Linked DNA regions of Homo sapiens. The protein of the gene in region 1 interacts with the protein of each later gene in a pairwise test. Each region holds a gene or a part of one and is shown in the gene's direction. Other genes may lie near its edges.

The links.
Region 2: the proteins of SH3YL1 (region 1) and GFAP interact in binary tests that used the Homo sapiens proteins (3 or more experiments, as listed by UniProt).
Region 3: the proteins of SH3YL1 (region 1) and ZBTB7B interact in binary tests that used the Homo sapiens proteins (3 or more experiments, as listed by UniProt).
Region 4: the proteins of SH3YL1 (region 1) and ERRFI1 interact in a two-hybrid assay, tested with the Homo sapiens proteins (one study listed by BioGRID).

Annotation. Positions count from the first base shown.
Region 1 is NC_000002.12:260,016-268,020, reverse strand, and holds the start of SH3YL1 (SH3 domain-containing YSC84-like protein 1), read left to right. Parts: upstream 1-3,988; 5' UTR 3,989-4,036; coding exon 4,037-4,037; intron 4,038-5,234; exon of another isoform or gene 5,235-5,820; intron 5,821-6,890; exon of another isoform or gene 6,891-7,936; intron 7,937-8,005. Other genes in the region: ACP1 (low molecular weight phosphotyrosine protein phosphatase), read right to left, coding at 3,014-3,056.
Region 2 is NC_000017.11:44,911,927-44,920,343, reverse strand, and holds the start of GFAP (glial fibrillary acidic protein), read left to right. Parts: upstream 1-4,843; 5' UTR 4,844-4,857; coding exon 4,858-5,318; intron 5,319-6,255; coding exon 6,256-6,316; intron 6,317-6,520; coding exon 6,521-6,616; intron 6,617-6,913; coding exon 6,914-7,075; intron 7,076-8,417.
Region 3 is NC_000001.11:154,997,993-155,005,801, forward strand, and holds the start of ZBTB7B (zinc finger and BTB domain-containing protein 7B), read left to right. Parts: upstream 1-4,809; 5' UTR 4,810-4,850; coding exon of another isoform or gene 4,851-4,951; intron 4,952-7,809. UniProt on the Homo sapiens protein: Transcription regulator that acts as a key regulator of lineage commitment of immature T-cell precursors. Exerts distinct biological functions in the mammary epithelial cells and T cells in a tissue-specific manner.
Region 4 is NC_000001.11:8,011,227-8,017,326, reverse strand, and holds the end of ERRFI1 (ERBB receptor feedback inhibitor 1), read left to right. Parts: exon of another isoform or gene 1-1,634; 5' UTR 1,635-1,707; coding exon 1,708-1,832; intron 1,833-1,926; exon of another isoform or gene 1,927-1,942; coding exon 1,943-2,019; intron 2,020-2,930; coding exon 2,931-4,117; 3' UTR 4,118-5,600; downstream 5,601-6,100.

The DNA of each region.
Region 1 (8,005 bases):
TTATGTACAGCCCACAGCGGTAAGAATAATTTTTACATTGTTGAGTAGTTGGAAAAAATCTAAAAGTAGAGTACCTTGTGACATGTGAAAATTATACAGAGTTCCATCCAATTCTGATGTCCACAAATGAAGATCCACTAGAACACAGCCAGGTTCATCATATGGATGGCTACTTTGTGCTACACCCTTTCTGTATGTCATGTGAAGCCAATCTAAAATAATTATAATCTGGTTCTTTAAACAAAGAGTTTGCAGACTCCTGCCCTAAAGGACCAGTGTATATAAGGAATTAACTTCTCCCTATACATCTACAATGGAAGCACTGAGAAAACAGGCGCTCAAATTATCTGCTAAATTTTCAGGTATAGATGAGGAATCCTGACTGAGAAAAACTATCTGGCCACTAGGCCCAGCCACTGCAGCTTCCCTGCGGTTCATGACCATGGCCAGTATTCTCCCTTCAAAACTTTTACCTGCTTTCCTCTGGGTTCAGGATGCTTCTCCAAAATATCCTAGGCTTGCTTCCTCACCTCCTTCAAGTCTTTACTCAAAAGTCATCTATCAGGTGGGGCCTTCCCTGACCATCCCACTCAAAACTGCACTCCACTCCCATTCCCCTTTTCTGCTCTATTTTTCTTAATCTTCACATCAACCGATTGAGCACATCAATTAATACTTGCTGGTGACTGAGAGAACGTGAGCTCCAGAGAGGCTGGGATTTTTGTCTGTTGTGTTCACCACACCACTTAGAGGAATGCATGCCATATAGTAGATGCTCAACAACAACAAAAAATCACTGAATTGTATTGAAATACAATAGTCCCCTCTTTTCCAAGGTTTTGCTTTCCATGGTTACCCCATGGTCAGCTTCAGTTGGAAAATATTAAATGAAGAATTCCACAAATAATTCCTAAGTTTTAAATTGTGCACTGTTCTGAGTAGCAGGATAAATTCTCATGCCATCCCATTCCGTCCTGCCCCAGAAGTGAAACACGTCTTTGTCCAGCATATCCATGCTGTCTATCCACCTATTGCCCTCTAGCTTATCAGATCCATTGTGATGCTATCACAGTGCCTGAGTTCGAGTCACCCTTAGTTTACTAATAATGGCCCGAAATCATAAGAGTAGTGAAGCTAGCAATTCAGATACGGCAAAGAGAAGCCATAAGCACTACCCTTAAGTAAAAAGGTGAAAGTTTTTGACTTCTTATGGAAAGAAAAAAAAAACTTATACCGAGGTTACTAAGATCTACAGTACGAACAAATCTTCTATCCATGAAAATGTAAACAAGGAAAAAGAAATTCCTGATCGTCTGCTGTCTTGCCTCAAACTGCAAAAGTTGCGACCACAGTTTTAAATGCTTAGTTAAGGTGGCAACGGTATTACATTTGTGGGTGTAAGAAACGAGCAGACACATGTTCCAATTGACAGCAATTGGGTTTGGTACTACCCACAGTTTCGGGATCCACTGGGGAGTCTTGGAATGTATCCCCTACAGCTAAAGTGGGACTACTGTATATGCAAGGATACACTTCCCCATTAACAGCAACCATGATGCATTATGCCAGCATAATCGACAATACCAACCAAAACTATACAAGGGAATGGAATATTATTTAGTAACCATCCTTAACCAAACTACTGTTTAATAAACTTATTGATTTCATCATTCAGCCTTCAATGAGTCTTAAAAATCAAATGATGCCCACTACCAATGTGAAACAAGGTAAGCCTTCTAATTCGTCTTTCACAGAAGTTAACTTCTACAAAACCTAGTCAGCGTTTATCATATATTGTCCTAAAGCTGAAAACAAAATGAAAAATAAGCCACAGTTATTGCCATCGACAAAATTAAACTCAGCTGGGATTTCAACAGACTATCAAATAATTATAGTAAAATTTGTGTAATAAAAGATGTCGATAAGGAATCACACCTTTTCTGTATTACATCTTTTACTATATTACACAAATTATAGTAAAATTTGTGTAATAAAAGATGTCGATAAGGAAGCAACTCATGATCTGGGAAAGCAAAGGAGGAAATATTTAGGTTTGACTTTATAAAATAAAAAGGCTTTCCAGGCAAAATGCATAATGGGCACCCAGCGATGAAGGCTCAGTAAGCATGTGAAGTGCTACCGAACAACGAAAGGTTCTGGAAGGCAGTGTCCCGAGGGTGTGAGCAGGAAAAGGTACAGGAGATAAAGTGAGGAGTCTGTAAAAATAAACAGAAACTGCAGGAAATGCAAACTCACAGAAGGTTTTAAGTAACCGGACTACTGACAATTTAGGCCTTCCTCTCAGGGTGGAGGCACCGAGGAATATAACCTTGTAGTGCTACACCAAAGGAAGATCCCTGAAGACCAAACGGAAAATAAATTATGTTTGAAGTAAGGCAAGCTAAGTGTTGAAATTCTAGGAGTGAAAATAATTTAAGCTGGAAAGTTCCTGAAAAGCCATTAATAAAATACACTTTCATTTTTCATGGGCCAAAGTTATATAGGGACCTCCAGGTCTCCTTTGCTTGGCTTTTACAATCAAGAAACCCGAAACCGTAAAACTTCATCTCCCTTTAACTCAGATCCCTATCTAAGCATGGGCTAAGGAAACTAGCAAACAAAACAATGTTGTCATAGGACTCAGGAGGCCCCTAAGAGACCACATCAGTCCGACAACCTCCAGGCCTACCTGGGCCCATTGGAGGGGAACGAGAGGGATTCTAGTAGTCGCAAAGAAAGTACCTTGGCTTGTAGGGGCTGTGGCTGCAGATGCCAAGAGCCCCGGATATATGGCAGGCGCGAGGGGACCCAGGTTTAGCGGGCAGGCTGGGCGGGTGCACGGGGCGGATGGGGAACAGGGGCGCTGCGGCACACTCCTAGAACACCCTAGGCCTCCCAGTCCCTGGCCTCCTCCCCCTCATGGTTCCTAGGCCGGCGGCACAACCTACAGCGCACAAGCCCGATCCAACTCTCCAGAGGACGTCAGAACATGAGTAAGTCGGCGCCCTCTTACCCAGACACACAAACAGCACGGACTTGGTAGCCTGTTCCGCCATCTTCCCGCGCGCAGAGGCGCCGAGACACCGCGGCGTTCCGCACGCCGACGCGGCGCAGGCGCACTGCCACCCTCTTGCCCCGCGCGCCTGCGCAGTCCCGCACCAACGCCAACAGGGCAGCGCGTGTGAGAGCCACGCCTGCGCAATCGGCTCCAGTGCGCCTGCGGAGGCGGTCCTATGACGGTAGTAGGACGGGCGGGGAGGGTCCGCGGGTCACCTGCAGGGACTGGGCCGCCGTTCACCTGCAGGGGCGGGGCTGCAGGTTGTCCGGAGGAGGAGGAGCTGCGGGGGTGGGGTCACCTGGAGGGAGTAGGGCCGCGGAAGGCGAGGGGGTGTGTGTGTGTGGTGGCGGGGGTTGGCGGGGGGGAGTCACCTGGAGGGGGCGGGGCTGCGGGTCGCTTGGAGGGGAAGGAGCCGCGGGAGGTAAAGGTTACCTATAGGGGACGGGGCCGCAGGAGAGGGGTACCTGGAGGAGGAAGGGCCGCGGGTCACCTGCAGGGCGGGCTCAGGCCTCGCGGCTCCGCGGGCCGCCCACCTGGGTTGGGGCACAGCGCGAGTCTCGCGCACGTGGCGGGCTGTGGTGCCTGTCGTTCGAGTTCGCATAGAGGGGCTGGGCGGGTCACGCGGGGAACCTGCCTTGAGCCCCGCGGGGTCCACGCCGGACCAGGGCGGCCTTGGGCCTGGGCGCTCCCTGAGACCCCCACCCCCAACACCGTGCTTGGAGCCGCCGCGGGGCTCTGGGCTTTTCGATCTTGAGGACGGGGCGGTTCCGAAGTCCCTGAGGGCGAAGGCCTGAGCGCGGCCCGGCGGGCGCGTGGTTTTTGTCCCGCGAAACGTACACGGCGGGTGTTTTGCGCCGCCTCCTTCGTCACCTGCCGCAGGTACGCCCTCGCTGGGGCCTCCTTGTCCGCGGGGCGGGGCAGCGCGCCTTCCTCTTCCTGGGCAGCCTCGGGACGGGGCGCCGCGGCCGGGCGGGCAGCAGTGAGTACCCGGGGACCCACCTGTCCGGCAGCACCCTCCCCTCTCAAGAGCTGGGCGGTGGTGGGAGGAGGAGGACGGGAAAACCGGCGATGCCTCTGGGGTTTCTAGGTCGCGCGTCTGTTAACCGCAAACCGCCCAAAGTTAAGATAGAGCAGCTTCCAGGACTTTCTTGACCACAGCGATTTTGATTGAAGTTTAGCCACCGTCTTTTCCATTTTTAGAAAAGCTATTCCGAAGTTTGGAATGATGACGATGGTCGTGTTATTTTTAACTTCCTGATATTTGAACGGCGAGGTGTCAGCGACCATCCTTCCGTTCCACAGAAGCGTCTCTGAAGTTTGGGTCGAATGCGCGCGCTTGGAATGTGCGTGGAACCCGCGGCAGGCGCGGGGAGGAGGCCTTGGCTAGGGCGCCGGCGAGGTTCGAGTTTGCCAGCCCCCCAACCTGGAAGAGAAGGGCCAGCCCCTCACACCCGGAAGGGAAGGGCCGGTCCCCCCAACACCTGGCGCCGGGGTCGCGGGGCCACAGGGCGAGCGCGGGGTCGCGGCGAGCACGGGTCCTCTCTGATCGCTGGGCCTTGGCGCTGGCTGCTGAGTTTTTCCTTCTTTAAGGAAGTGTGGAACTGGTCTCAATCGGTTGACCACCTTAAGGAAATAGGATTTACACTGTGGACAGAGATGTGTCCTTTACACTTCATTTGAACCAATATGCCCATGCTCCTGTGGAGGCTGAGTTGGAAAGTGACACGAAGCTGCCCCCCCGCAAGAGAGCAGGTGCTCGGTTTCTCTTCTGCTTACAGGAGATGCATGTCCTGATTTCTTGTTCTCCTAGGTGTTTTTATTGAGATGTAGGGAATATCTGAATTCATAACGACTTAGAAAATCTGTACACACAGTTGAGAGAACAGGTCTCGAGGCTAAGGTGCTGTTTACTCCCGTGGGCTGGCCTGTTATTAAAATACTTGTGCAGCGACTGATGTTTACAAATTACTATGTTGGAGGTTAAAATGATCAAAGTGATAACCTCCATCCTGTCTATCATGTTTGAGGAGAATTGGTTATTTGGTTCACTAATGTTCTGTTTAAAGAAAATTTCTGTAAAACTAGTAAATGTTACCCCTCATCTTTTGTAAGTTAAAAAAAAGTTTAAAATAATGTTTGCTCATCAAAAGTGATTTGATACTTTTGTTCTGTTTAGGAAAACTTTATTCTCAAGAGATTTCTCATTCCGCAGAAATAAGGATCTGGCATGTCAACACAAACATAGGAAGTTGAGGCAGTCAAAGGGAAATAACTGCTACCCTGACTCTGCTGAGAGCCTCACAAGTCCCTGTGCACGCCAGCTTGTTTGCCAGTGAGTGGCGTCATGATAAGACAAAATTCTCTGCTCTGAGACCTAAGCACATGAAGTTTTTAAAAAAATTTTCTCTGAGAAGATCCCATTTTTTACTCTAAAAGATCAGACCAGTGTGGCATGTGTGGAACTGCTCTGTACCAAGATCACACTCTTCAGTTGGAGAAGAGGAAGGGCAGGAATAAATAAAGGGCTTTCCTGTCTCCCGAGGGAGCAGAGAAAGCTTTCGCTGTCCTCTTCCTTCCCCAGCCACAGCCTGGGGTTGGGGGACTGGAAACAAGCTCAGGCTAGCACTTGATGTTCAGACGGTAGTCTGAAAGTTTGACTAGGGAGTTAATGATCTGACCAGAGAGACAGGTTTTTATTTTGAGAACTGACAAGCTTTGTGTCCTTAAAACAAAGGAAGTAGTTAAACCAAGGCCCCAGAAAGGTAAGAATTGACTTAAGAAACAAAGGCCATAGTTGTCAAGCAGTGGAGTTCAAAATGCAGTTTTGTTAATAAAAGTAGCTTAAAGCAACATTTGAAAGCCTCTCTAAAGATTAGATACATACACTTTCTTTTGGCTAAGATTTCTTTAGTTTATTCTAAATATACCTTTAGCAGCATTCAAGTTCCTTTGATCTTAGATGGAATTTTATCAGTTTAATGAGTTAACCTCCATTTCACATAAAGTATAAGGTTTAATAATTTGATTAATATGTAATCAGTAAGAACTTGGAAAACCAAATTTAGTAAGCTTGCTTTCCTGTAAGTATTCCTTTCATAATTAGAGTCCATTGAAGAAAATAATATAAGGGAAGCAAAAGTTTGGGAATCTGAACTCTGGTAAGGAAAGTGGTGGAGAGGGGCCCTTGGGTCTTCTTGCTTTCATTCCTGACCCTCCGTGTACAACTAGATTGGAAACCGTAGTCAGCTTTGTCACCTCAGGTGGCAATTTACTCCGAGTAGGATTCTCATGTCCCTGTTTGTCCCCAGTGACTCTAGCATTGAGTTTATAGAACTGCGATCAATACCTAAAATTATTTCCAGATCTTAAGCTGATTTATGCTTTTGAGGTTTCCAAAGTAAAAATTGTCTTTCCGGTATTTTATAAGACCTTCTAATTTAAAAAAAAAATGTGTTACTATGAAAATTTAAAACATTTTAACTTTTGTTTTAAAGAAAACTTTATTTGAAAGTTTCTTAGCTTGAGGTTTGGCAGCCACTCTTTTTTTAGAAAAAACTTAAATATTTATAGAGATTTTGCCTGATTCAAGGGACTTAAGACGTTTATGAGAGTGCAGATGCTAACCATGATGTGAGGTTTAAGAGGCTTCATTAGTAATGACCTGTGTCTTCATCAGTATGATAGAATGGGACATCAGCACTCTGATCAGGTCATGCTCTATATGCCTTATGGTACAGCAGAGGAAAAATGGGTGAGCCATCATTTGATGCTGAGGATGGGATTTGAGGCTTATGTCTAAATTTTTATTTGCATATTCTTTTTGTTCTGACAGAGAAATTCACTGCATGTAACTATGACCACGCATGATTTTATCAGAAGTTGATTAGAATCTGTAACATTTTCTGTAGTTCAGCTGACACACTGAAGATGTCCTCACTGTGACCAGCCTTGTCAACAGCTGGATCACAGTGACATAAGCTGTGTCTAGGATGAGTCTTGCGGTCTGCAGCCGTGTGAGGCTGCATCTGATTCCCAAGTCCAATGGCTCTCTTCCCGTGTTTACAGATCAGGCCATGACCTTTCCCTACAGCAGGATGTTTGCAAGATTAACTCTCAACTGAGGAATTTGCTTATTTGCTCTAATACTGCTTGGTTGAGAGAGTTCAAAGTAGAAAGTCTTCTGAGGGGATAAGATTCATGTATTATTTACAGTGCTTCAGTTGCATGTATCAGAAAATCTAGTCTAAATTGCTTTAACAGAAAAAGATGTTGCTGGTCCATTTGACGAAGAAGTCCAGAGCGGCTTGTGACTTCAGTCTGGCTTTGCAGAGCCCAGGTGCTCTCTCCACCTTCTGCCAGGTTCCCCTATGAAGGCTTTGCTCTCAGACTCTCCCCTTGTGGAGACAAAAATCCCACAGCAAGTGGAAACAGAAGTGCCTTGGAAAAAGTTATTCTGGCAGCTCCTATACAAGTCCCCCATCAGATGCTGGTATTGGACCAGCTTTGGTTATAAAGCCCTGCTGTGGCACCAAAAGGAATGTCGTCCTGATACAGCAGCCTCGGGTCACCCAATCCACTCCAGATACTATGGCTGCAGCATCAATGTAAGCAGACAAGTTGTGCTGCCTCTGAAATAAAGTAGATGAAATATTCAGCAGCAGAAAGAACAAGTTTCCACTCCAGTGAACTAATTCAAATGTATCCAGCATCTAGATATATGTATAAATGTAATTAAAACATATTGAGCATCTAGAGCATCTCTCCCAAGATAATTACCACCTGATAGTAATGGCTATAAAAGCTAAAAGTGGAATCAGTCTACATGTTTCGCAATAGGAATCAATTGAAGCATACATCAAAATGCAGACAGTAGTATTGGTGAGTATTAATGTTATAGATGCTTTTTATCCTTCATATTTTCATATCTGTACTTTTTCCTGTATTTTA
Region 2 (8,417 bases), on another chromosome or scaffold:
AGTGCTATAGCAGTCAGAGTCAAGTCTAGAGAACAAAGCGGGTGATGCCCCTGGGTGAAACAAATTTGGGTTTTAGAAAACTCCGCCTACAGCTTTCTCCCTGCCTCTAAACTGCGGTGGCTGTGGCGGCTCACACCTGACCAGCTGAGCACCACCATCTAGTGGCCACCAGGCTCAGTTCCCTTCCTCGGGACAGGCCATGGATGAACAGACTTGCTGGTCACCAAGGCTCAGCCAGAGAGACTGTGTTCTCTTCACCCAGCTTGCTGACCACCACGCTGTGCCAGGCACTGGGCCAGGGCCAAGGGCCCAAGCAGAACCAGCGGGCAGCAGTCATGTGGCAAAACTGCCGTTTGAATTAGAGGCTGGCCTATTTGGCAAACACCAGGCACCCTGTGTGTGGGTTGATGCCACATGTGGGGCTGGTCTGTCCCAGGAGGCATCTGGGCTTTACCCTGTAAGCAGAAGGTCATCTAGCAGATTCTGATGTGAGGGAGGGGCTCAGGAAGGTCATCTTGTCCTCACCTCAGCTTGAAGCAGGCACAGCTTGGCTGTAGGCTCCTTGAAAGGGCATCCAGACTTCTCTCTCCATGGCTGGTATTATCCTGCTGTGCAGTCTAGAAGGCAGTCTAGGGTTTGGCCAGAGGCTTTAGAAGTTGGGGCCTTCCATTTGGGGAAGCAGGAGAGGAGGCACCCCAGAGAATGGGGCCTGAGCCAGGCTAGGAGGATGGGGGGTTTGGGTGGAGGCTGGACGGGCTGAGGGCCTACCCTTCTCTGTTTGCTGTGTCTGCCTGCAGCAGATGCAAATCAGAGTGTGGTTTAGAACAGAGAGAGGACAGTCACAGCGGCTCACATCTGTAATCCTAGCACTTTGGGAGGCTGAGGCCAGAGGATCACTTGAGGCCAGGAGTTCAAGACCAGCCTGGGCAACATAACAAGACTTGGTCTCTGAAAAAAAAAATTATCTGGGCACACTGTCATGTGCCTGTAGTCCCAGCTCCTTGGCAGGCTGTGGCAGGAGGATTGCTTGAGCTCAGAAGTCTGAGGCTGCAGTGGGCTATGATGGTGCCACTGCACTCTGGCCCTGGGTGGCAAAGTGAGACTTTGTCTCTAAAAAAAAAAAAAGAGAGAGAGAGAACATACTGTCATACTGTCCACCACTAGGGCTTGGTACATGAATGCATATAGTGGAAAATCATGCAGCTGTTAAATGATGATGCAGACAAATATTTATTGATGTGGAAAGATGTTCACAACATATTGTTGAGTGAGAAAAGCAAATTACAAAATAATTTGTACGGCATGAGCCCATTTTGAAAAAAATGATTATATATGTGTGGAAAAAATCTGGTAGTGTTTATCTCCAGGTGGCAAAATGATGGCTAATTACATTTTTTTGTATTGCTTATCTATAGTTTCTGACCTTTCTACAATGAATATTTAATTAAAAAGATAATGAAAGTTTGGAACACAACCACGACCAAATCTGTCTGTATCTTTGGTTCTCTGTGCAGACACCTTTAGATAGTTAAGGGTTGGCCAGGCGTGATCTATATGTACCGGTTGTATAGGTCATGCCTGTAATCCCAGCACTTTGGGAGGAAGAGGTGGGAGGGTCACTTGAGCCCAACAGTTCGAGACCAGCCTGGGCAACATGGCGAAACCTTGTCTCTAGTAAAATACAAAAATGAGCTGGGCATGGTGGTGTATCTCTGTGGTCCCAGCTACTAGAGAGGCTGAGGTGGGTGGATCGCTTGAGCCAGGGAGATTGAGGCTGTAGTGAGCTGTGATAGCACCACTTCACTCTAGCCTGGGCAACAGAGCAAGACCCTGTCTCAAAAAACAAAAACAAGATAGTTAAGGGTTGAGTGTGAGGAAAGGTCTGAGGGTTGAGAAGGGGTGGAGGATGCACCTGGGCCTATGACAGGGGTCCACGGAGGTGGCTGATGGCAAAAGCTGGGGGACTCCAACTGCTGATGCTGAAACAAGCTTGTGTCTCACATACACAGGGACAGTTCACTGAGCTTCAATGACAGGCACCTCCTGCTCATCACATCTTTTCTCTCTAGGACAGCTTTGCCCTTATTTTAACTAGACTTCCCTTGAACCAAAAGGGAAGGCTACATGCTGTGACTTGCTGGGCAGCCTGGAAAGGCGGGCCACTCCTAGCCACAGAGATGAGACAGAGTTCAGACAAGAGCTTATCCCCAGTCTTCCTTTTCTATTTTGTTTATTTTATTTTATTTTTTTATTTATTGAGACAGAGTCTCTGTCACCCAGGCTGGGGTGCAGTGATGCGACATTGGCTTACTGCAGTCTCCACCTCCTGGGCTCAGGTGATCCTCCCACCTCAGCCTCCCGAATAGCTGGGATCACAGTAGTGCACCACCATACCTGGCTAATTTTTTTGTATTTTTTGTACAGACAAAATTTCACCACATTGCCCAGGCTGGTCTCGAACTCCTGGACTCAAGCGATCCGCCCACCTCAGCCTCCCAAAGTGCTCGGATTACAGGCATGAGCCACTATGCCCAGCCTTGCTCTTCCTTTAAAGCCTCCTGTCCTTCCCCAGGTCCCCAGTTCATAGCAGGATCAAAGGTCACTGGGCGCTCACCCCGTCTTCAAGATGCTCTTTCCTATGTCACTGCTTACGCCCAGGTCAGATGTGACTAGAGCCTAAGGAGCTCCCACCTCCCTCTCTGTGCTGGGACTCACAGAGGGAGACCTCAGGAGGCAGTCTGTCCATCACATGTCCAAATGCAGAGCATACCCTGGGCTGGGCGCAGTGGCGCACAACTGTAATTCCAGCACTTTGGGAGGCTGATGTGGAAGGATCACTTGAGCCCAGAAGTTCTAGACCAGCCTGGGCAACATGGCAAGACCCTATCTCTACAAAAAAAGTTAAAAAATCAGCCACGTGTGGTGACACACACCTGTAGTCCCAGCTATTCAGGAGGCTGAGGTGAGGGGATCACTTAAGGCTGGGAGGTTGAGGCTGCAGTGAGTCGTGGTTGCGCCACTGCACTCCAGCCTGGGCAACAGTGAGACCCTGTCTCAAAAGACAAAAAAAAAAAAAAAAAAAAAAAGAACATATCCTGGTGTGGAGTAGGGGACGCTGCTCTGACAGAGGCTCGGGGGCCTGAGCTGGCTCTGTGAGCTGGGGAGGAGGCAGACAGCCAGGCCTTGTCTGCAAGCAGACCTGGCAGCATTGGGCTGGCCGCCCCCCAGGGCCTCCTCTTCATGCCCAGTGAATGACTCACCTTGGCACAGACACAATGTTCGGGGTGGGCACAGTGCCTGCTTCCCGCCGCACCCCAGCCCCCCTCAAATGCCTTCCGAGAAGCCCATTGAGCAGGGGGCTTGCATTGCACCCCAGCCTGACAGCCTGGCATCTTGGGATAAAAGCAGCACAGCCCCCTAGGGGCTGCCCTTGCTGTGTGGCGCCACCGGCGGTGGAGAACAAGGCTCTATTCAGCCTGTGCCCAGGAAAGGGGATCAGGGGATGCCCAGGCATGGACAGTGGGTGGCAGGGGGGGAGAGGAGGGCTGTCTGCTTCCCAGAAGTCCAAGGACACAAATGGGTGAGGGGACTGGGCAGGGTTCTGACCCTGTGGGACCAGAGTGGAGGGCGTAGATGGACCTGAAGTCTCCAGGGACAACAGGGCCCAGGTCTCAGGCTCCTAGTTGGGCCCAGTGGCTCCAGCGTTTCCAAACCCATCCATCCCCAGAGGTTCTTCCCATCTCTCCAGGCTGATGTGTGGGAACTCGAGGAAATAAATCTCCAGTGGGAGACGGAGGGGTGGCCAGGGAAACGGGGCGCTGCAGGAATAAAGACGAGCCAGCACAGCCAGCTCATGTGTAACGGCTTTGTGGAGCTGTCAAGGCCTGGTCTCTGGGAGAGAGGCACAGGGAGGCCAGACAAGGAAGGGGTGACCTGGAGGGACAGATCCAGGGGCTAAAGTCCTGATAAGGCAAGAGAGTGCCGGCCCCCTCTTGCCCTATCAGGACCTCCACTGCCACATAGAGGCCATGATTGACCCTTAGACAAAGGGCTGGTGTCCAATCCCAGCCCCCAGCCCCAGAACTCCAGGGAATGAATGGGCAGAGAGCAGGAATGTGGGACATCTGTGTTCAAGGGAAGGACTCCAGGAGTCTGCTGGGAATGAGGCCTAGTAGGAAATGAGGTGGCCCTTGAGGGTACAGAACAGGTTCATTCTTCGCCAAATTCCCAGCACCTTGCAGGCACTTACAGCTGAGTGAGATAATGCCTGGGTTATGAAATCAAAAAGTTGGAAAGCAGGTCAGAGGTCATCTGGTACAGCCCTTCCTTCCCTTTTTTTTTTTTTTTTTTGTGAGACAAGGTCTCTCTCTGTTGCCCAGGCTGGAGTGGCGCAAACACAGCTCACTGCAGCCTCAACCTACTGGGCTCAAGCAATCCTCCAGCCTCAGCCTCCCAAAGTGCTGGGATTACAAGCATGAGCCACCCCACTCAGCCCTTTCCTTCCTTTTTAATTGATGCATAATAATTGTAAGTATTCATCATGGTCCAACCAACCCTTTCTTGACCCACCTTCCTAGAGAGAGGGTCCTCTTGCTTCAGCGGTCAGGGCCCCAGACCCATGGTCTGGCTCCAGGTACCACCTGCCTCATGCAGGAGTTGGCGTGCCCAGGAAGCTCTGCCTCTGGGCACAGTGACCTCAGTGGGGTGAGGGGAGCTCTCCCCATAGCTGGGCTGCGGCCCAACCCCACCCCCTCAGGCTATGCCAGGGGGTGTTGCCAGGGGCACCCGGGCATCGCCAGTCTAGCCCACTCCTTCATAAAGCCCTCGCATCCCAGGAGCGAGCAGAGCCAGAGCAGGATGGAGAGGAGACGCATCACCTCCGCTGCTCGCCGCTCCTACGTCTCCTCAGGGGAGATGATGGTGGGGGGCCTGGCTCCTGGCCGCCGTCTGGGTCCTGGCACCCGCCTCTCCCTGGCTCGAATGCCCCCTCCACTCCCGACCCGGGTGGATTTCTCCCTGGCTGGGGCACTCAATGCTGGCTTCAAGGAGACCCGGGCCAGTGAGCGGGCAGAGATGATGGAGCTCAATGACCGCTTTGCCAGCTACATCGAGAAGGTTCGCTTCCTGGAACAGCAAAACAAGGCGCTGGCTGCTGAGCTGAACCAGCTGCGGGCCAAGGAGCCCACCAAGCTGGCAGACGTCTACCAGGCTGAGCTGCGAGAGCTGCGGCTGCGGCTCGATCAACTCACCGCCAACAGCGCCCGGCTGGAGGTTGAGAGGGACAATCTGGCACAGGACCTGGCCACTGTGAGGCAGAAGTGAGGAGGGGATGGGGAAGGGGGGCCTTGTGAGCAGAAGGGGCTGAATCCCCAAGAAGGAGTGCCCGAGAAGTCTCAGGGAGGGGCCGAACCTCCCTGCTCCCTGGGCCTCCCTACCTCTTGATGGGGCACTATCCTTGCCCCCCAACATGATGGGAGGGACCAGAAACAGGCCCAGGGCCCCGGGGATCTGATGCCCGCATGCCTTCTGCCAGGAGTCCAGGGTCCCCTCAGCACCTCCCTACTGGGGAAAGCAGTGCAGGAGCAGCGGGGCCCCTGTGTTTCATTCATGGCTGGGCTTTGTGACTGTGGGCAGCGAGCTCACCTATTCTGAGCCTGTGTCCATATAAAGGAGGAGTTGGAAGCGGAGAAGGTTGATGTCCATGAGGGAGATTGGATTCTGGGGTGAAGAAAGTGAGGGAAAGAGCAGGCAGGTCTGGGCGCAAAGCACAGGTGACTGCCTGCCACCAGCTTGTGACCCCCATCAAGTTACTTTGACTTGCACAGCTGTGAAGCGGTGGTCATAATAAAATTCATTTCAAAAGGTGGTTACCTGGGATCAGAGGAATCCCCAGGGGCATGGCGCTTCACTGAGCTGACAGGACATGCATGTGTGCCTTCAAGTGCAGGAGGACATGTGCGTGTGTGTGTGTGTGTGTGCAACAGTGAGTGTATGCTTGTGGATGCGCCTGTGTGAGCAGAAGCAGGTGCACCAACCCTGATAAGGCACCTTAGTAATGAGTTAAGGCAAAAGCCCACATCTGCTCATCCTCCAGACAAGTCCTCTGTCTAAGGCCCCCCAACCCTTAATCCTCCTGCTGCTCTACTGGTCCTGGGTGGGGGTGGTCTCTGTGACAGCTGCCTCAAGGGAGACTGAGGCAGGTATTCAAGTGTCCTCAGAAGAGCCTGGACCCAGGAATGTGTCCCCCCACTCCAGGCTCCAGGATGAAACCAACCTGAGGCTGGAAGCCGAGAACAACCTGGCTGCCTATAGACAGGTCAGGGAGGTGGAGGGGAGGGGCAGGGGAGGGAGGAAAGGATTGATGGCCACCCACCCAAACACAGCCCCCAAGCTCAGCCCGCCAGAGCAATGTGCTGCTCCCCACTGCCCCAGAAGGAGGGGTAAGGCAAGGCTGAGGAATGGGGAGAAGGAGCCTGGGGCCCCAGTGGCCCTCTACTCCTCACCCCTCCTGCCACTCCAGGAAGCAGATGAAGCCACCCTGGCCCGTCTGGATCTGGAGAGGAAGATTGAGTCGCTGGAGGAGGAGATCCGGTTCTTGAGGAAGATCCACGAGGAGGTGAGGCCAGGGCAGAGGGAGGAAAGCTCAACACAGAGATTGCAACTGAGAGAGGGAGAGACAGAGACAGAGAAGCTGAGACTGAGAGAGACACTCAGAGAGAGGAGAGAAACAGAGATTGGCAGGTAGAGACAGGAAATGAAAGACAAACAGAAAGACACTAAGGGAGACGGAAAGAGACAAGAGAGCATTCGAACTCCTGGCCGAGGGGCAGGCAGAAGAGGACACAATGGCGTGGGGAACCCCAGCTGTGGCCTGTACCCTGAGCCCTGGTACCGCTTCTCTCACCCTGGTCAGGAGGTTCGGGAACTCCAGGAGCAGCTGGCCCGACAGCAGGTCCATGTGGAGCTTGACGTGGCCAAGCCAGACCTCACCGCAGCCCTGAAAGAGATCCGCACGCAGTATGAGGCAATGGCGTCCAGCAACATGCATGAAGCCGAAGAGTGGTACCGCTCCAAGGTAGCCCTGCCTGTGGGCCAGCCTGCCTCCTCCAGGCAGCCCTTCTTGCTCTGTACAAGAGAATGGGGGAAGGAGGGTGGAGGAAGCTGGGAGAATATCCTCTCCAGGTGACTGACTTTCACCAGAGAAGTGAGATGGCTTGCCCAGGGTCACACAGGCACTATTGCTTTCAAAAGTACCCATTATTATTACTGCTACTATTGCTATTATTAGTAGTAGCTGATACTGTTCTGTTCTAAGCCCTGTGCTTTTCATGGATTACCTTACTATGAAGTAGGTGCTGTTCTTTGACAGATGAGAGAGCCGAAGTCCAGAGAGGTTAACTAATTTGCTCAAAGTCACACAGCTCCTAAGTGGTAGAGTTGGATTTCCAACTCTAGCACATCTCACTTGGGAGCCTGCATTCCATGCCTCTGCCAGTCTGTTTTGGGTTACTGAGCCTCTACCATATGCCAGGCACCCCCCAGGACACAGAGAGGTGTCTGACCTGGAAGGTGTGATATTGACGTGCACCCAAACATAGTGCCCGTAGAGAACACCACAGCTCAGAGCTTATATGTAGTGTGGGAGCCAGGAAAGACACTGTAGAGGGGGCATTTGGGCTAGGCAGGACAGGCACGCTGTGGACAGGAAGAGAAGAAGGGAGGGCCATTCCTAGTGGAGGACAGAGCCTGGAGGCAGAAAAGCACAGAGAGGCAGGGCCCCAAGATGCTAGCCTAGCCAGGGCACCTAGCTGAGGAGTGTGAGTGGCAGAAGCCACTGGTGTCTGAGCAGGGTGAGGGCCCGATGGGGCTGGGAGGACCTCCCTGCAGGCAGGGGAGAAAGGGCTATTAGAACCCAGGGTGAGGCCAGGCGAGGTGGCTCACACCTGTAATCCCAGCACTTTGGGAGGCCGAGGCATGCGGATCACCTGAGGTCAGCAGTTCAAGACTAGCCTGGTCAACATGGTGAAACCCCGTCTCTACTAAAAATACAAAATCAGCCGGGTGTAGTGGCGCATGCCTGTAATCCCAGCTACTCAGGTGGCTGGGGCAGGAGAATTGCTTGAACCTGGGAGGCAGAGGTTGCAGTGACCCGGGATTGTGCCACTGACTTCCAACCTGGGCGACAAGAGCAAGACTCTGTCTCAAAATAAAACAAAAAAAACAAAAAAACAAAAACACACAAAACACCCAGGCCTCCGCTCGCCTAAGACGACAGCGTTCAGTCCCGCAGATGCAGCTGTCAGTGTGGAAGGTTCTGGATTCTGTGGCACTGTTCATTCATTCGCTTGCTGACCAGGTGTTGTGCTAGGTGCTGAGGTCTGGCAGCCCGCTACCCTGCCCGCATCCATGGGTCACAG
Region 3 (7,809 bases), on another chromosome or scaffold:
CATGCAAACAAAAGCATGGAGGGTACCACCTCCATGCACCCGCTCCATGCCACTTCCCACCTCAGCCCTAAGCTCCCTGTTCTCAGCCCATTTGGAGGTTTCAGGTGCAGCCCTTTCACCTAATCCACACAGCCAAGAGATCTTTCCTGGCCCATGGCTCCCCACTCTGTGGCTGTTCCCCCACAAGTATCTCTCCCCGACTAGGGCAACTCAGGTTTTGAGTGTCCAAATTACTCCCTCAGGAACTCAAGTGGAGTAAGGTGGGAGGGAGGTGAAGGAGACAGGGTACCAAGATATTAGGTTGGTGCAAAAGTAATTGCGGCCTTTGCCATTAAAACCTCACCTACCCCTCGGTGCCCTGGTGCCCTCTAATGGTCACAGGGGGTGGGGGAATGGGTGGAGTAGGAATGGAGACAGGAGGGACCAGCTGGATGTGACCCTCAAGTACAACAGCGAGAGGAGAAGCCTGATATCCAGGATTCCCGGCGGATTACATCGGATACAGGACCCTCGTTGGCATGCAAGGAACAGTTGGAGGAGAGGGGTCACGGCCCAAGGGTCTGAGGAGCGGCAGGCAATAAACTGGATATCATAGCAATAATCTGGCGGCGGGGAGGGGTGGGTGGGTGGGGATGTCCCACGTTTTCCCAACACCAAGAGGCCGGCAAAAAGGGGTGTGTGGCAATCATTTCACTGGCAGCGCCAGAGCGCAGACCCATCCCCAAGGGCATAGGCTTTTTTTTTTTTTTTTTTTTTTAAAGACGGGGTTTGGCTCTTGTTGCCCAGGCTGGAGTGCAATGGCGCGATCTCGGCTCACCGCAACCTCCGCCTCCCAGGTTCAGGCAATTCTGCTTCAGCCTCCTGAGTAGCTGGGACTACAGGCGTGTGCCACCACGACTGGCTAATTTTTGTATTTTTACTAGAGACAGGGTTTCACCATGTTGGTTAGGCTGGTCTCGAACTCCTGACCTCAGGTGTTCCACCCGCCTCTGCCTCCCAAAGTGTTGAGATTACAGGCGAGAGCCACCGCGCCCGGCATGGGCATAGGCTCTTATTTGCATCATATTTACATCTGTCTTGCATGTGAGTTATTTCCCTCCACCCAACTTTCTCAGTTACTCTCAGACTCTAGAGTGTTCGCCAGCCTTGGAGCGTACCCGTTCCTCCAGCCATTCTTCGGCCTCAGTTCCTTTCCATCATTCGCCCTCAGGCCTTCGCCTACCCCAGCTTCAAAGAAGCGACCGTAACCTCCTAGCTGGCTGGGTTCGAGAAGCCGGGGACCTGCGCCTCCTGGTGGCTGATCGGAAGGAGGCTGAGTGCAGAGGGGTTGTCTTGCCTTCTCTGGGACGTGGAGTTTTGGAAACTGTTCCCCTGAGCTTCCTGAAGCTAAATTTGCCTCCCCCGGCCTTGGGGGGCGCAGAGATCCCGGCGGCGATTAGCGCTGCGCGGCAGCCGGCTCCAACCCAGAGGCCCGGAATAGGCGCGGAGTTATAAATAGTGCCACCCGCAGGTGTTGGGGGGAGTCGGCGGGAGGGGGGTACCCCTGGCGGCCACGGCCCCTTCAGGTGGGTTGGGCGGTCGCGGTGGGAGCGCTGGGGGGCGGGGGGCGTGGGGGGTCTGCGGTCTGAGCGCCCCCAGCGGTTTCCTGGGCGGCGGGTTTTTCGAGGGAAGCGGAGGCAGCGGAGGATGGGGGGGAGCAGCGGAGAAGAGGTGGGCGCCTGGCGCATGCTGACGCTCCGCTTGCAGCTCAGCCCCCCACATTCCGAAACAGGCCCCCAGACCCACTCACGCAGGACCCCGCCCAGGCAAAGCCTCGCCTTTCTTAACACCTGAAGGCCTCATTCCCCCAGGTTCTGCAAGCATCTAACTTCTATGCTTCTACCCTTCGGCGCACGTGGCCCGGCCAGTCCGCGCACCTGGCCGTCATTCCGAGTCGCTGTCCCCAGCCCCAGGTATTCAGTCCTCCCACTCGGGGCTTTCATTCCTCTCTTAGGGTAAACACTTCCTTCTCTGGGTATTTGTCCAACTCGTGCTACTCTCCCCAAATTTAAGGTCTAGCTGGTCACCTAAAAATTTAAGTCTTAACATGCGGATCTGGGACGCTCTCCTATCCCCAGGCGGCCCCTGCAGGCCCCTCACTTGCCCTCCAGCTCCCAGTTCCAGTCTGGGCCTAGTGGCGGGGCGGGGGCGGCCGGCCCCTGGGGCCCAGCAGGGGTTTCATGGGAGGGGGCGGGGTCCCCAGTCAGCGTTTCTCTGCCGCCGCTGTTTCAGTCGTTTGGCGTGGTTAGGGGTTGGGGTAAGAGGGAATTTCAAGTAGGGGTTCCCCGCTCCGATTTCTGAGTAAGGAGGGGAGCTATTTGCACCAGGAGAAAAAGAGAGACAAGGGAGGGTGGGCGTCACTGAGGAACTAACTGCGGGTTCCAGGACCATTGGGAATGAGGTGAGGAGTGGCAATCTAGCCGCAGAAAGATCAGTCATGTTCAGCCAGACGCAGAACGCGACCCTCAAACATGGGGGAAGTTGGGCGAGGCGAGCCTGAGGCACTGGGCACCTTTCGAGTTTCTGTACCCAAAGGCTGGTGCCAGGGAGCCCGCCCTTCTATTGCCTCTGGAAGCCCTGGCTCTGCCCTCCCCGGGCCACGTTCCCACCCCCCCCGCCCCCCGCCCCCTGCCCCCCGCCCCCTTTCCTTGGCTATCCTCCTTCCTCCCCAAAGCAGCCCCCTCTCCATTTCACTTGTGGCACTGCCGCCTAGCCCCTAGCACAGCCCTTCACCAGGCCTGCACGACCCAGACGGCTGGAGTAGGAAGGGGAAAACCCCGGCCTGGACGGCTCCGGGCCCCTCCGGACCAGGATCTGTCCGGCGGGGCTGAGAAGAAAACCCGGAGCAGTGATCAGCCTCGCGACCCAAGGGGGTCAGGGACGATAGGAAAACCCGGAGCGGATTACTCGAGCCAGAGCGCCCCATGCCTGCCGCTACCTCCTCCTTCCTATAGCCCCCCTAATTCTCCAGTGAGATAATGTCTGGGGTGGGGGGCTGTTTGGTTTGGCCTGAGCCCTCAGGGGCGCCTCACACTTTCCGCCCCTGGCTGGGGCGCAGGGCAGCGGCCCCGAGGCTGAGTCACGGCCCGGCGCGGAGAGGGAGAGAGGGAGAAAGAGGGAGGGAGGGACCTGGACTCCGCCCCTCGTGCGCGGGGATCCCGGGTCAGCCCGGGTGAGGGCCAGGGCCCCCCTGGCGCCGCCCATTGTGGTCCAACAGGTTGAGCTGGTGTCCCGAGAAGCCACCTGCTGGAAAGGGAGGGAGGCCCCCTGCGGAGGGGGGTTGGGAGGGGAAAGCGAGTCCGACCCGGTTCGGCCTGGCTTGTCGCAGGGGAGCCAAACCTGGCCCTAGGTAGCCGGATTTGATTCCATTTGACACTAGTGGGAGGGGCCCTTTGGGGTACGCAGCTCCGCAGGCTCAGTCAGAAACATCCTTCACCCGCTACCTTTCTCAGTTGGGGGACTCCTAAGTATTTATCCCGGTCCTCCCCAAAACCTACACATACCACACATCCCAAAACATCCAGGCACCCCTCGCCACCTGGGTCTCTCAGCGAATTCATGTCAAGCTATCCCTCCTCGGTGGAGACTCAGTTTCTCCACTTAGGGAACCCGCGGGATGGAGGTGGGGAGCAAAAGCGTCGGCGCGCCCCCTCCCCCTTCGCAGACTGGGCCCCTCCCCTCCGACAATGCCAAGGCCGCAGCGGGCACTGGCGACAGCACAGAGGCTGCTTGCCTGGGGCGCCCTTCCCTCCCCGCGGGGCACCGTCACGCGTGGGGAGGGACGCAGGGCGCCCGCAGGCTCAACTCCCCGGCTCCCTCCGAGAGGGGGTGGGGCGTAGGGGCCGGAGCCGAAGGCCTGGTGGCTCCCCCTCCCCCTCCCTTCTAGGTCCCTGACCTGATTACAGCCCCTCACGGGACCCCCTCCCTCAAGACCCTAAGTCCCCAATTCACCCCCACCCAGCCTATCCCTAACCTCTCATACCCTTCCCTCCTGAGGTCCTGACCCTACAGAAGCCCCTCTTGAAGGAGAGGGAGCCCCTGTAGGGGGTGCTCGATTCCCTGGCCGCTGCGGACACTGCCCCCTCCCCCCTCCTCTCCAGGTTCCAGGCCAGCCCCTCGGCTCCGCCCCCTCCCTGGACGAACGCAAGGCGAGACCTACTGGAGATGAGCGGGTATTCAGGCCAATGAGCGGACAGGGCGGTGGCGTGCAGGGGGCGGGCAGAGCAGCAGCAAAGGGCTGGATGGGGGCCGGGGGCGGAGTTTGAGTTAAGGTGGACTGGGAGAGATAGGGGCAGGAGAAAGGGGGGGGAGAGAGGGACCGCGGCAGGTGAAGGGAGACAGAGAGAAGGAAAGAAGGAGGGAAAGGAGGAGGGTGGGAAAGGCTAGGAGAGCTAAGTAAGAGTTTGGAGAAGGGGGCAAAAAAGGAGGGAGGGACCCATCTGCGCTCTGCAGGGACTGGCTGGACGAAGGGGTTGAAGTTTATGTCCTTATTGGGCGGAGGGAGGGGGCCTGGGGGGGCGGGTGAAAAACCAGGAAGTGACAGAGGGTGTTTCTAAGTGTTGGGGGGGGGGAGTTTGGGGGGTGGCAGGGGCGGGGGGAGGGAGGGGAGGGATGGGGGGAAAGCAAGCTGGAGGACAGGTGAGACAGCAGGACAGGTGAGGCGGGCCCTGAGGGGGGGGCGGGTGGGAGCCAGGTGAATGTACGGCTCTTGGCGGCCGAGGGGGGGCGGGCGGCAGGAGGAGGCAGAGGGCGGCGGAGGAGGAGCCCCCCAGCAGCGAGCGGCGAGCAACTGACCGCGGCCTTCTGACCAGGACCGGAGCAGGGCCCCAAGCCCCCGGGCCTGGTGGGGGACGCGCTTCTTCCCACACTGTGAGCCTCAGCAGCTCCAGCCAGCGGACCCGACGGCTGAGAGGTGAGTGTACCCCACTTTTGTCTCCTGGCTCGGGGTTCACTAGGCTCGAGACTACTGCAGTGTCCTTCGTCCGTCCTGTAAGTGGGACCCCCAGATACACACGCATGCAGATCACATTCCCACCACTCCCCTTCCCTGTGCTTTCCCAACACCCCGGGTCTCTGGAATTGGTTTTAACTGAGATGAAAGACAGAGAAGGAACTGCGGATGCCCCCCAACCCTAGGCGGAGGGTCCCCAGAAAGTTTATCTGCACTTCTCCTGGGATCAGACAGACAGACGGCTTCGGGATGGAGAGGGGGTGAGGCGACGCTGAGCGTTCCCCCAGTCTCCTTCGTGACTTTAGGGGGAGACCCCAGACCGGACTGAGTTGAGGGAATGGAAACGCTGACGGACTCTAACTAGGACAACGCGCACCCCCCCCCCACCCCGCGCCCCCTGGCGCGGTGGATTGGCCCCAGGCCAGTTGCATGGGGGTTGGGGGGGCGCAGGAGGAGCCGCGGCTTGGGGGAAAGTTACCGGCTGGACTATTCGGTTTCTTGCGCTTCCAGAGCCGCGCTCTCTCCAGCGGTAGTGGGGCTCAGCAACAACCTCTGAACCGACATAGAACGACCGCTCTCTTCCCTGCCCCTCAATCCCACTCCCTTCCTTCAGGCTCCAGTCCCGCCGCTACCTTTTCCACGCCAGCTCATGACCACAGAACCCAAGAGCGAGGGCGGGTGACTAGGAAGAATTCTCCTACCTACTACCCGTCCCCCCACCGGCGCCGGCGCACCTGCCCCAGCCCAGAGTGGGGGTCGCTACTGTGTTGTTGTAGAACCTACAGAGTGCGCCTGGCAGAAGGCTGCCATTCAAAGGGGTGGGGGGCGCTGCTTTCAATTTCCAGCTTTCTCTCCCTCCTCCCACCCCATCCCAAGTAAGAGAGCGACGTGTCCCGGCCAGAGCGAGGTGGGGGCGGGAGTGGGGGGGCGGCGTGGGCAGCGGGTTGTGCCCGGACACGTGCCTGCCCAGGCGCCCCGGCCCTGCTGGTGTTTAGAGAGAGGGCGGGTCCCCTGCCCCCCGCCCCGCACAACCCCCACGTATCAAAGGGCGGCTGAGACATGGTGAGACCTCGGGGCGCCCTGGGGGGCAGGGGGGCGGGGAGCCTGGGTCCGGAGCAGGGGAGGGGCAGAGGCGCCGGTGCTAGCTGACCCACAGGAAACGAGCGCTGCTGACCTAGTTTGGGACACCGGAAGTGGGTGCTGGGGAGAGGGGGAGACCGGCAGGCTGTCCAGGCTTCCGGGCCAGGTGGAGGGTGTTCTTGAATTGACCCCCGCCCGAATGCCTTGGAGACCCCTAGCTGCAGCCGAGAATGGGAATGAGTCAGCGCAGCTATTCCCCCTTCCCCCAACTTATTCCTGGAGGAGGGAGACCGCTTATCAGGGACGGGGGAACCAGATTGGGCTGTGAGGGGTTAAAGCAGGATGGGAACTGTCTGGTCCCTAAGGGAGTATGTGTGAGTGTGGGGATGAGGCCTGGAGGATTATGGGGTTGCCTCCTGCTGCCCCACACACACCAACTGGTTTGGTCACCCCTGTACCCGCCTGGCACTGCTGGGAGAGCTGGCATGGAGTGGACATCAGGTTGGGGAGGAGAGAGTGGGCATAAGGAGTGTTGTGCTGCGCTAGAGAGGGACATATGTGTGACTATGTCTGGATGATAGTTAGTGTTCCTCCTTAGTGGTAACTGGGGAGAAGGGTAGGGGGCTCCCCCTGGAGCAGCTGATGAAACAAGGAGAAATCTCTGTCAGTGCCTCTGTCCCTGGCCCCAGGGACCCCAGCTCCCCCAGCGTGCCTCTGTTACATGGTTGCTGTGGGCACAACACAACCTGCTGGCACCCCCAGACACTGTCCCCTCCCTTGGGTACCACACACCCCCAGCCCTGGCACAGGGGTCAAAAAGGGGTTAATACCACCAGAATGGGGCTCTGGGGAAGAAAGAAGGCAGTGCCCACTAGGCTCAGGTGTCAAGGAGACAGGCTTGCTCTAATGGGACTCTCATCACTACTCAGTTCTGGCTGATGTAGACCCCAGTGTCTGGAAGACAGGTGCTGTCCCCTTCTTCTTCCCCATGGTGCCCCCTGGCACCCAGGGCCCCCAGCTCCTCCTTGGCCTAGTGCCTGCCCAGGGAGGGTGCGGCGGGCAGCGGGGGCTGGGCTAACAATGCACCATCAGGCCCTTTGTGTGCCTGCACTTGGCACCCTGGGGAAGGGTGGGGGAGGGGGCCCAGCAGGCATGGGGGGCGGAGCGCTCTGGGGTGGGGACAGTGAAGGCTGGGGGAGAGAAGCAAATGAAAGCAGGTGGGGAGGAAAGGGAAGTAGGTCAGATAGGGTGCCAGCCCCCCATTCCAAGCCAAGGCTGAGAGAACCAGCCCCTGATCCTATGGCTGCCTGGATGGCATCAGACTGAGGGACAGCCTAGGACTGGGCATTTGGGGTCAGAAGTCACTGCCCAGGGGACTGCTCAGATGGAGAAGGTTTGGCCTGGTACTGCCCCCTTCTTAATGGCTGAGAGACCCAATTCTTCTGGCCCAAGACCAAGGCCCCAAGATGAGTAGTGAATGGGCTCCAGGCAGGGCACTGCCCTCTGACAGAAGCCTCTGGGCCTGCTGCGGGGCTTCCTGCCTCTGCCCCGCTTGGCTCCCTGACCTTCCTGAGAGTTAAGACTGCCCTGACACCAGGCCTTAGGGCCTATGCCTGTTTTGGCCTAGGGCGGGAGAGAACAGTGGGGGAGGAAGGTGGGGACAGGCAGATGGATAGGACCCTGGCATGGGGTGTGCCCGCCCTGGCCTCTTCCCCCTCCTTGTGCTGAGTAAACTCGTG
Region 4 (6,100 bases), on another chromosome or scaffold:
GGTAGAACAGCTGACTGTGGAAGGGTAAAATGCAGAGAACCAGTCATTGGATCTCCCTTCTCTACTTTGTTACTGAAATCTTGAACCTGTAGAACATTACTTATCACTGTGTTCCTTTCTAATGGGAAAATAATAATAAACACTTGCAGAGTATTTTTTAAAAGTTTTTAGCTTTAAAAAAAAAAACCCTGTGCCTTACACAATGTGTATATTGAGTTGATACTGATTATGATAATTAGATGGTATTATACAATCATTCATTCAGCAAACATTCACTTACTGAGCACCTACTAATGTTCCAGGTACTGATTGTTAAAAGGTGATTGAGACACAGCCTCTGTCCTGAGCTTAGTCTAGTAGGAGGTGACAGATTTGTAAATAATAGATTTGAAGTTGCTGAGCAAAAAAAAAAACAAAAAAAAAAACCTGTGTACCTCTCCCCCACAGCAAATGTGTCACATTTGCACAGTGCCCAGCCTTTGCACAGTGCCCAGCACTCAGCTGTGCAGATATTATTTGCACTGATCCCTTACTAATATTTAGTGAGAGAATGAGATCGTGTTAAAGAGTGTATATGTACGTGCCCCCAAAAGGGGTCAGTGTTACACAATAGTTGACAAATAATATCCTGGTGCCTAAGGAAAAAAACCTAAACTTATAAATAAACTTGGCTATCTGAAGACAGCAGAGATTGATGCTGACTAACACATAACGAATAATAAAAAAGGAAAGTGAAAAGGGGGCTATAGGGACTCCAGACCTGTAACATCTGACAAAGGGGATTGGCGGTCCTGAAGTTGAGGAACTACTAATTTAAGAAAAATGTACTTATTTTGTTATCCATGCCTTGCAGCTAAGCAAGATATGAGTTACTGGGTGTTTCACAAAGGAGGATGTAAAGAATGTACCTTTAACTTGTCTTTAAAAGGGAGGGAGGAAGCTGTCCCAGGCTTTTACTGAAGCCAGTAATCTTGCAGAACTTGATTTTTACAGGATAATGGAAATTAGTATCTTCATATATTACTGTTTGTTCCTTGAACAAGTAGTAACTGGAGAATTTGTCTCCCCATGGCCAACCCTGAAATACAAAATCCAGATAAATGCTAGACCCTGGGGTAGTCAGGTGCCAATACTGTAGAAACTCTTGCTTAGTTTCAGCATTGTGTTTTAGTGAGTATTAGTTCTACAGCATAAAATACAGTGGCTTCTGAAATTACTTTTTTAGCTTGGGAAAAATAAGCAGGATCCACTGGTGCTTCATGCCCAGTGCAGCCGTAACTTAGAAGGCTGGTTTAATAAGTCAGGGGAGGGTCTGTGTGCATTGCCAAGTGAGTGTGATTTGTTGTGCAACTCTCAGGCTGTGCAGTAGGAGGTCTGCTTTTGCTGGCAATAGATTATTTCTCATTTCACTAAAACATTTCATGTCTTTTGGATTAGCATTTACACAAAAAATCATTTTTAGTGTTTACATATAAGTACCCTCACGAGCTGTGAGAATTAAGTGAAAGTCTACAACTAATTTTTTCTATTCAGCATCCCCCAAATCCTCTGTTAGCTTTGCTGTAATTTAGACTGTCCTAATGGAGGTATTTCTGAATTGTTTTCTTTATTCTCTCATCTCTTCTACCTCCCAGGGAATGAAAGCTACTGGTTGATTTTAAAGTGCCTGGGCCTCACAGGTTTGGAGATGTCCCAGAATAAGGCACAATGTCAATAGCAGGAGTTGCTGCTCAGGAGATCAGAGTCCCATTAAAAACTGGATTTCTACATAATGGCCGAGCCATGGGGAATATGAGGAAGACCTACTGGAGCAGTCGCAGTGAGTTTAAAAAGTAAGTAGAGGATGTAATGCTGCTGTAATCTGGATAAATATGTGACACTAAAATGGGAGAGGCTGTGATTGCTCTTCGCTTATGACCAAAGTAGCTTCCTCTCCTTTCAGCAACTTTTTAAATATTGACCCGATAACCATGGCCTACAGTCTGAACTCTTCTGCTCAGGAGCGCCTAATACCACTTGGTATGTATTCTGAAAATCTGATCACAGTAAGCATTTGAGAAGAACAGTCTGGATTCGGGTTAGCTTGTCCTCCAGCATTATTTTTTAAATGAGGAAACCTGAACTATTTCCAACAACAGCCTGACCCCTAGTGGCAACAGATTCAGAAGATAACTGTGTTTTTCTCAAGCTATTGTACTCGACTGCCTTCATTCTGAGTCACTGATTGCTAAGTAGGACTGTTCATGGACGTGGGATCTTCTAAAATCAAGAATTAGTTCTCATTCCAGCTCTGATGCATACTTTACTTCATGAAACCTTAGGCGAGATTTCCCACCTTTCTTACTAGTATCGAATGCATGTTTGACAGTAATAGATGAAAATAGTATAAATGTTCCTCAAAACTTAAAAAATAGTATTTTTAATGTGAATATTCTGTTCCTTGGATCTTTGTCAAGAGCTGTGTGTGAACTGAACACATTGCAGGCAAGTCCATTCACTCACAATATTATGATGTGCCAGCAATAAGGACTTTGTCTTATCTCATTGGTACCCTACGTGCCTAGTATGGTCGCATGTCTTAAATGGCAAGGCTGGTACAGTATGGTATTCATGTAAATTATATGCTATTCATCTTCCGCGAATTTTACACACGTCACAAAACTTGCCTGTGATGTGTGGGTGTGCGCTGTGCACATGTCCAAGGGAGATAGAGGAGATAGTTTGTTCTTTGAACCACACCATGTGCGTTAAGAATCTTCTGCTCTCTAATTACACCTGTGGTGGTTGCATGGGTGTTCTCGGGGTGACAGCAGTCAAGTGTTTCACTCAGGAAGAAAGCTGTGGAAGCATAGGTAGCTGGGGTGCTCTCTCCCTCACACAGGTGGAGAGAGGATTGTTGATCTTTTATTAATATCTCTCGTTCATTCCAGGGCATGCTTCCAAATCTGCTCCGATGAATGGCCACTGCTTTGCAGAAAATGGTCCATCTCAAAAGTCCAGCTTGCCCCCTCTTCTTATTCCCCCAAGTGAAAACTTGGGACCACATGAAGAGGATCAAGTTGTATGTGGTTTTAAGAAACTCACAGTGAATGGGGTTTGTGCTTCCACCCCTCCACTGACACCCATAAAAAACTCCCCTTCCCTTTTCCCCTGTGCCCCTCTTTGTGAACGGGGTTCTAGGCCTCTTCCACCGTTGCCAATCTCTGAAGCCCTCTCTCTGGATGACACAGACTGTGAGGTGGAATTCCTAACTAGCTCAGATACAGACTTCCTTTTAGAAGACTCTACACTTTCTGATTTCAAATATGATGTTCCTGGCAGGCGAAGCTTCCGTGGGTGTGGACAAATCAACTATGCATATTTTGATACCCCAGCTGTTTCTGCAGCAGATCTCAGCTATGTGTCTGACCAAAATGGAGGTGTCCCAGATCCAAATCCTCCTCCACCTCAGACCCACCGAAGATTAAGAAGGTCTCATTCGGGACCAGCTGGCTCCTTTAACAAGCCAGCCATAAGGATATCCAACTGTTGTATACACAGAGCTTCTCCTAACTCCGATGAAGACAAACCTGAGGTTCCCCCCAGAGTTCCCATACCTCCTAGACCAGTAAAGCCAGATTATAGAAGATGGTCAGCAGAAGTTACTTCGAGCACCTATAGTGATGAAGACAGGCCTCCCAAAGTACCGCCAAGAGAACCTTTGTCACCGAGTAACTCGCGCACACCGAGTCCCAAAAGCCTTCCGTCTTACCTCAATGGGGTCATGCCCCCGACACAGAGCTTTGCCCCTGATCCCAAGTATGTCAGCAGCAAAGCACTGCAAAGACAGAACAGCGAAGGATCTGCCAGTAAGGTTCCTTGCATTCTGCCCATTATTGAAAATGGGAAGAAGGTTAGTTCAACACATTATTACCTACTACCTGAACGACCACCATACCTGGACAAATATGAAAAATTTTTTAGGGAAGCAGAAGAAACAAATGGAGGCGCCCAAATCCAGCCATTACCTGCTGACTGCGGTATATCTTCAGCCACAGAAAAGCCAGACTCAAAAACAAAAATGGATCTGGGTGGCCACGTGAAGCGTAAACATTTATCCTATGTGGTTTCTCCTTAGACCTTGGGGTCATGGTTCAGCAGAGGTTACATAGGAGCAAATGGTTCTCAATTTTCCAGTTTGATTGAAGTGCAGAGAAAAATCCCTTAGATTGCAAAATAAAATAGTTGAACTCTCTGTCTTCATGTGGAAGGTTTAGAGCAGTTGTGAGATGCTGTTATGCTGAGAAACCCTGACTTTGTTAGTGTTGGAAAAAAGTCTTACAAGTCTATAATTTAAAGATGTGATGGTGGGGAGGGGAGGATGGGGAAGCTTTTTATATATGCATACATTACATACCTATATATAAACTTGTGGTATAACCATAGACCATAGCTGCAGGTTAACCAATTAGTTACTATCGTAGAGTAATATATATTCAGAATAATAAACTCAAGCTGGAGAAATGAGTCCTGATAGACTGAAAATTGAGCAAATGGAAGAAGATACAGTATTGTTTAGATCAGAATCATTAAAAAATATTTTTGTTTAGTAAGTTTGAAGATTTCTGGCTTTTAGGCCTTTTCTATTTTGTTCCATTTATTTTTGCAGGCAATCTTTTCCATGGAGGGCAGGGTATCCATTCTTTACCATGGGTGTACCTGCTTAGGTTAAAAATCATACCAAGGCCTCATACTTCCAGGTTTCATGTTGCGTCTTGTTGAGGGAGGGAGAGCAGGTTACTTGGCAACCATATTGTCACCTGTACCTGTCACACATCTTGAAAAATAAAACGATAATAGAACTAGTGACTAATTTTCCCTTACAGTTCCTGCTTGGTCCCACCCACTGAAGTAGCTCATCGTAGTGCGGGCCGTATTAGAGGCAGTGGGGTACGTTAGACTCAGATGGAAAAGTATTCTAGGTGCCAGTGTTAGGATGTCAGTTTTACAAAATAATGAAGCAATTAGCTATGTGATTGAGAGTTATTGTTTGGGGATGTGTGTTGTGGTTTTGCTTTTTTTTTTTAGACTGTATTAATAAACATACAACACAAGCTGGCCTTGTGTTGCTGGTTCCTATTCAGTATTTCCTGGGGATTGTTTGCTTTTTAAGTAAAACACTTCTGACCCATAGCTCAGTATGTCTGAATTCCAGAGGTCACATCAGCATCTTTCTGCTTTGAAAACTCTCACAGCTGTGGCTGCTTCACTTAGATGCAGTGAGACACATAGTTGGTGTTCCGATTTTCACATCCTTCCATGTATTTATCTTGAAGAGATAAGCACAGAAGAGAAGGTGCTCACTAACAGAGGTACATTACTGCAATGTTCTCTTAACAGTTAAACAAGCTGTTTACAGTTTAAACTGCTGAATATTATTTGAGCTATTTAAAGCTTATTATATTTTAGTATGAACTAAATGAAGGTTAAAACATGCTTAAGAAAAATGCACTGATTTCTGCATTATGTGTACAGTATTGGACAAAGGATTTTATTCATTTTGTTGCATTATTTTGAATATTGTCTTTTCATTTTAATAAAGTTATAATACTTATTTATGATACCATTAGTAATGTTTCTTGCCTAAAGTCTTATAAAGTGTATGAAGCAATTTGACAGCATTATTTTTAAGCACAAGCGAAGATTCTTTGAAGTTTAATGTATTCTTGAAACTCTTATTCTTTAGAATGAAACATAATTTGTGCAATCTTTTTCACATATTATGAAAGTATACAGTGGAAATGAGCTGTTTGTTTTTACCTTTAACAACTGAAAGAGAACTGGATTCTGGGGTTACTATCAGAAACAACGTTGGGGGTGGGAGTCCACATCAAGGAGAACGTGACAGAAGAAACCAGTTCTGATGTGTAGACTTGGTTTGACTCATTCTGATTTTTAGGACGAGGTCCCGGTTACTCTGGGCCCTTTGGCAGGCTTTGCTTCTTGCTTAAGGCCACCCAAGGAATCTGCACCTGCCTTGGCCTGTCATGGAGATGGCAAGTCCACAGTGGACAAATGGGCTCCTGGCAGCCTTTGGATGGAGGCAGGGGCTGGAGTGCTC